2 separate regions of the Homo sapiens genome follow, and region 1 is linked to region 2. Evidence: fine-mapped expression QTL. A gene starts in region 2. The other region holds a variant in brackets. All regions are shown on one strand. Distances are from middle to middle.

Region 1 (2,930 bases), 26 kb after region 2:
TGTGGATCTGGGTGGGACTGTATTAGGGACTGGTACAGTAAAACAATTAAAATGAAATGATCCACAGGAGACACTTCCATCAATAGGTAAGTTACAGTGGGTGGGATAATGAGCCCTTCAACCCACCAGCGAATCAGTAGGGTAAAGCTAGCACTTCAACACATTGGTGGTGGTGGTAGTGAGGGGGTGAGTTTATACAGCATTAAGCTTTTCTTTTATTAGTGGAAAACTCTGAGTAGAGCTTGTGTGTGTGTGTGTGTGTGTGTGTGTGTGTCTAAGATTTTCCTATCTGTTGCCACGCTGTTTTGGAAACGGCCTACTATTTGCAGACTCACTGTCATTCACTAGTCCCGATTTTAATCACTGTTTGATCTTATATTACACATGAAATGGTAGAATAATAATTAAATTTTGTGTCACTGTCCCTGAAGACATATTTTCATATATTAATTGCTGATTAATCTTCTACTTTTTTTTGTTGTTGCAGTTGTTATTCCGTGACATCTTATCTACTTAAGCAGCTAACCCATGAGGCATCCAAAACAGAGAGAAAAAACAGAGTGAACATTTTGCCTTATGGAATTGTCAAAAGTTGCGGTCGAAACACAGGCAAGATTTGGAAGAATCTGTAATGAGCCAGGGCCAGTTTTCCTAGTTATAGAGCCTAGGCTGGAGGAGGTACATGGGCTGGGGAAGGAGAGGGAATTAGAGATTGGCTGTTCCTGGAAACTCTCTGCCTGTACTCCATGGCCTGAGTCCCAGGACCTGGAAGCGGCTGAAAATCTGAGATATAGAAGAGACTGGTGCTGCCTTTCTGGGGAGGGCTTGGGAAAACAGCAAGTTCCCTGAATTTTTCCATGGCACAGGAGCAGATGAAATGTCATGATTGGTGTCCAGGCTAGTGGACTGAGTTAACTCCCGAGAGTCCCTGTACTCTCCAGCATGGCACGAGGAGAAGCAAACCATTTTCCTATGCAGCCATAGGAAAACGGTACAAACACGACACTGAAATTCAGCTGACCGCAAGAGCTTGATGGTCAGTGTGAGCCAGATGGAGCAGGAACATGTATGGATGGAAAACCCAGATCCAAAGTTCATCCCCCTCTCCCGTGGATGCTCCAGCACATTGCAAGGTTTCCCAGAAACTTAGAGGCAACCTTGGCACAAGGACATGATTTGTTGGAAATTAAGTTTTGTCACCTGGGGGACTGCGAGCTTGATACGGAAATTAATTCAGTTATATAATTATAAAAATGATGCACTTTCTACACATCTGATTTTGTGAACCCAAATTAGTTTCCACAACGCAACTGTGTTAACATTTGCCAACCTCTGGGGCAACATTGGTTGTCTTTGTTGCTTTTTTCTAGAAGTTTTCAGCTC[A/G]AACTCATCTTTCCCTTTTTTATTTTCATTTCTAAATTCTGGTGAGTGGTGTTTTGATAAGTAGATATCAGCTATTTCCTGTCTTACTTGAAAAGTCTTCTCTGTATTAAATAACAAAGGTCACTTAGATAAATATCTTCTCATTACCAGAGGGTAGGGAACTGCTTCTCCTATACATAACTTCTATTATCTTTCAATCCAGAAAAAAAAACGTGGCAGGAGGACAAGTTTTTGAATGTTATGAATCGTGATTTCTGTGTCTAAAATCTGCTCTTTTGTTAACACTAAGGGCAACTTCCTTCAAAGTGGTTCATCTTGGTCTATTACTGTGTTTGTGTGTGTGTGTGTGTGTGTGTGTGTGTGTGTGTGTGTGTGTAGTAAAACCAAAGTTTCCTATTATTTTTGAAGGTATTTGGCCCTGCTGGAAGACAGCTATGTATAAGTTGAACTTGGCAGAGAGAAAGGGAAACCAGATCTTACTCCCAGGCCTCCTGTCACCAGCTGTGTGACTTTGCTGAAGTCATTTCTTTCCCCTAAGTCTCAGTTCCAATACCTATAAAGTGAGTGTTCTGCCTGTGTGTGTTTTAGGTCTTTATTAATGTTGAAATGTCCTGACTTTATGGGTTCTCATTCACTGTGATGTGGTAACCAAAACAAGCAGAGATTAATAACCAGGACTCAATAATGTAAAACACTAAAAATTATATTTTTGCAAATTTTTGTAAACGCGGGATCATATCTCTCTCAGTGACAGTATTGGTGTGATCCATTATTGTACATTTAGTGGATAAACAGAATGTAACTAAGAAGTGTTATCTTTGTTATCAGGGGAACGTGGAGTTGGATGTGTATGATGGGGATGGGCAGTTAATTCATAGGTTAAACACTCAACGAGGGAATATCTCTTTATCGCTATCTCCAAAGACTCCCCACTCTTCCTCAATTTTCTTAGTAACTCACTGCTCAGACTTAGTTTCCCCAGAAGCAGACTATGAGACCAGGATTTGATGCAAGCAGTTTTTTTGGAGTTGATCTCAGAAAGGCTAAGAGAGTAGAGAAGTAATACAGAGAAGTGAAGAAAGCTAATAGAAGGTCCCGGTGCTCTCTCCTGAAAGAGAGCGCTGGAAGACTGAGTAGAACATGCCCCAGAGTTGTCCCCCTCTGCTGGGGCAAGAGAACTAGGGTACTGATCAGCTAATTTCCGTGCTTCACTGGTTAAGGGCATTAACCTCCCCAAACTTCTGGCCTGTGCCCCAGATAGACCAGGCATGCTTCTGTGGCCAGAGAAAGCCCGAGGATGGAGAGTCACAGATGCTTGTGGTAGGTAGCAGGTGGTGTGTATGGAAATGGGAATGGGATGCCAAGGGGATTTGGGCAGGGCACCAAGCATCTGCCGCATTACCCTAATCCAGGCAATAACACTCACAGTATCCCAGGGATTCCCCTTCTAGCCTCGAATTCCTCTTATTCTCATTTATTTTGTATTTACTTTCTAGACCATAGTTTCTCAGATAGTAAAGGTTCTACTGACTTTCCTCATCTCTCTG
Region 2 (2,930 bases):
TAACACATGATATGATTTGGCTGTGTCCCCACCCAAATCTCATCTTAAATTGTAGTTCCCATAATCCCCATGTGTGTTGGGAGGGACCTGGTCGGAGGTAATTGAATCATGGGGGCAGTTCCCCTGATGCTATTCTTGTGATAGTAAGTTCTCACGAGATCATATGGTTTTATAAGGAGCTTCCCCCTTCACTTGACTTTCATTCTTCTCCTTCCTGCTGCCACGTGAAGAAGGACATGATTGTAAGTTTCCTGAGGCCTCCCCAGCCCTGCAGAACTGTGAGTCAGTTAAACCTCTTTCCTTTACAAACTACCCAGTCTTGGGCAGTTCTTTATAGCAGCGTGAGAATGGACTAATACACGTATCTTTAAGTTTTCTGTGGTGAAGATTAAGCATGGCAGACACAGAGTATGTACCCAATAAATAATAGGTATAATTGTGCTCATCCACACTCTCATCAATTACCTGGCAAAAATTCTATTCAAGGGCTAGGACTCTGCTACTCCACTCCAATCCTCTTCAGTTCCACTATGTTTACCTCAGTTCCCCAACCAAATGGGTAACAGCTGGTTTTGCATGAAAGTGAGCAACTATGGAGGCAGAGGATTGTCTCCTCACGTACTCGGGATGAATTCTACCCCGAGGCACCACACCCTTGTTGGGCCAACTGCACAGAATTCTGTGCATGCACGACTATCAAGTGTTTATCTATTGCCCCAGAAGCAAGCTTCTCTAAACCTGGTGCTTGTTTCTCTCCTATGCTTCCATCTCCTGTTGACCTCCCTTCCAATTCTTTCCAATGTGCCTCATGGAATTTTCATTCTGTTATGAGTAACCCTCTGTTGATCTCCTAGTTTTCATTAAACGTTGTCTGTGCTTCAAGAACACTGAATATCTTTTTGCTGTGTTAAATCCAAAGCTTAGTCATTGGTCCTCATCTTAGTTGAATCCTCAGTACTTTCGCTACTACCACCCTTGTACAAGCTGCTACCTTTTTTTTTTTTTTGCCTGAAATGATACAGTAGTGTATAAACCAAGTATCTCTGCTTGCATCGTCATCTGCCTGTCATGTATGCTCAATGTAGTAACCACAGTGATCCTTATAAAAGTAAAGTCAGGTAAATGTCACTCCTTGGCTACTTCAGGTCAGGGACCATGTCATTTTTTTTTTTCCCTCTGTATCTCCAGGGCTTATCGCTGAAACTTAGCAGGCACTCAGTAAATATTTTGCTAAGCAGTTAAAACTAAGAGAAGAAAGAGGAGGGAGAAATATGGTAATCACTTACCACATCCTCTTTTAACCTCTTGAATATCTTACCAATGTCTTCTTTTGTTCTTACTTTCACATCATTTGATTTGATAAAACAAAACTATTATCTAGAGAGGTAAGGCAGACTTGTGAACTGGACCCGTAGAAGTTAAGTGATGTCCCTGTTTGCAGTGTCAATGAGATTGAGGGCTTGGGCTTGAACCCAACCTTCTCCCTCCAAATAGCCTGCTCTTTCTGTTATGTCATGTTTCATATACAAGTTTGGGAGCCTCCAGCCCTGACTATCCCAACATATACAACATAATGTATATGTTGTCTTTGGAAATATCTTCTGTGAAGGCCAAGCATTTAATATTACAGGAAACCTTGAAGTGGATATGGAAGCTTGGCAGCCAGCTTGGATCTTCCTAAGAGCCTCTTTCCTTCATACCATCTTCAGAGTACGTATCATTCAATAGAGACTCTCTTGCACAGGAATTATTATTATATGCTTGCAAATAGTCTCAACCAAAATCTTTAACCTGGAAATGAAGATGGGCTACTGTCTAGGAAGCCTCTGATTTTGTTATTGGTTTTTATTATCATGTTAGGTTTGTATATTAAGGAGAAAAATTGGCAGAGAGCATCTAACCTATTAAAATTAGATATTCAAAGAAATTTAGTTTTGGGGGGTCTGAATTGATAATATAACATATGGAAGTTAAAATTCTAGAAGCTATGTTTACTATATGATTTCATGGTGTAACAAGATCTGGGAGTAACATAAACTAATCTACCTTCCCTTGTAAACAATCATCTTCCTTCCAAGTCTTGCTGGCAGAGGAAGAGGTTGTGGGACAGTGTGGGAAGAAGGAGGGAGTCAGAGTTAATTTCATTATGTGCTTCCTAAAGAATGGGTTATTCAACAAAAACACTAGTAACAACAGCAACAATGAAACTCCACCTCTCTGAAGTGTATAGAAGATTAATATGATATTTAAGTACATTTTAAATAGATTTTCTATTTCCAAATTGATAACTGTGGTCATGTAAACTTTCATGATCCTTTGCGGCTGACTCTCTTGTATGTCCATTTGGCAGTCTCAGTTTCTGCTACATTAATTTGACCTTGATAATTTATTCATTCATATATGTTTGTATTATTTCTTGAACCAGATTACTATAAGAAACTGTCTTGTTCTTGTCATATCTTTTTCCATGCTCTCACACCTCTAAATAATTATCTAAACCTAAAAAAGGATAAGTACTTTTTAGAAATTTACTTTACATTCAAAGTAGAGTGTCTTATCTAGGTTTGACAGTTTTTACACTCTGAAAATTGAAACTATATCAACAAAAGTAATTTTATACACTGTCCCAAGCTTTTAAGAAAGTGATAAATATACACTGTATATGACATTGAAGTACATTTTGAATAGCTTTTCTATTTCTATCTTGATAATTATGTGGTCCCACGTAGGTCAACAACAACAAAAAAGTGTTGGGCCATCCCATGTAGGTTGACAACAACAAAAAAGTGATAGGTATACAGTGATCTTTATACCTATCAAATTTTGTTGATCTTATTTATTTATTATTATTATTATTTTCTGAGACAGAGTCTTGCTCTGTCGCCCAGGCTGGAGTGCAGTGGCGTGATCTCAGCTCACTGCAACCTCCG

The links. PIP is the estimated chance that this variant, and not a neighbour inherited with it, causes the effect.
Region 1: its variant is the best candidate, but not a certain one, in a credible set for the expression of LINC00402 in whole blood (INTERVAL, PIP 0.79).

What each region holds. Positions count from the first base shown.
Region 1 is chr13:74,256,446-74,259,375 of GRCh38, forward strand. It overlaps LINC00402 (long intergenic non-protein coding RNA 402), which reads left to right. Exons shown (of 2, transcript NR_144451.1): 2 at 488-2,930. It also overlaps a transcript of KLF12 not described here. Among named protein-coding and RNA genes, the nearest start is that of LINC00402, 26 kb to the left of the region's middle. The variant A/G (reference allele first, on the strand shown) is at 1,384.
Region 2 is chr13:74,230,043-74,232,972 of GRCh38, forward strand. LINC00402 (long intergenic non-protein coding RNA 402) reads left to right here and starts at 1,402. Exons shown (of 2, transcript NR_144451.1): 1 at 1,402-1,710. It also overlaps a transcript of KLF12 not described here.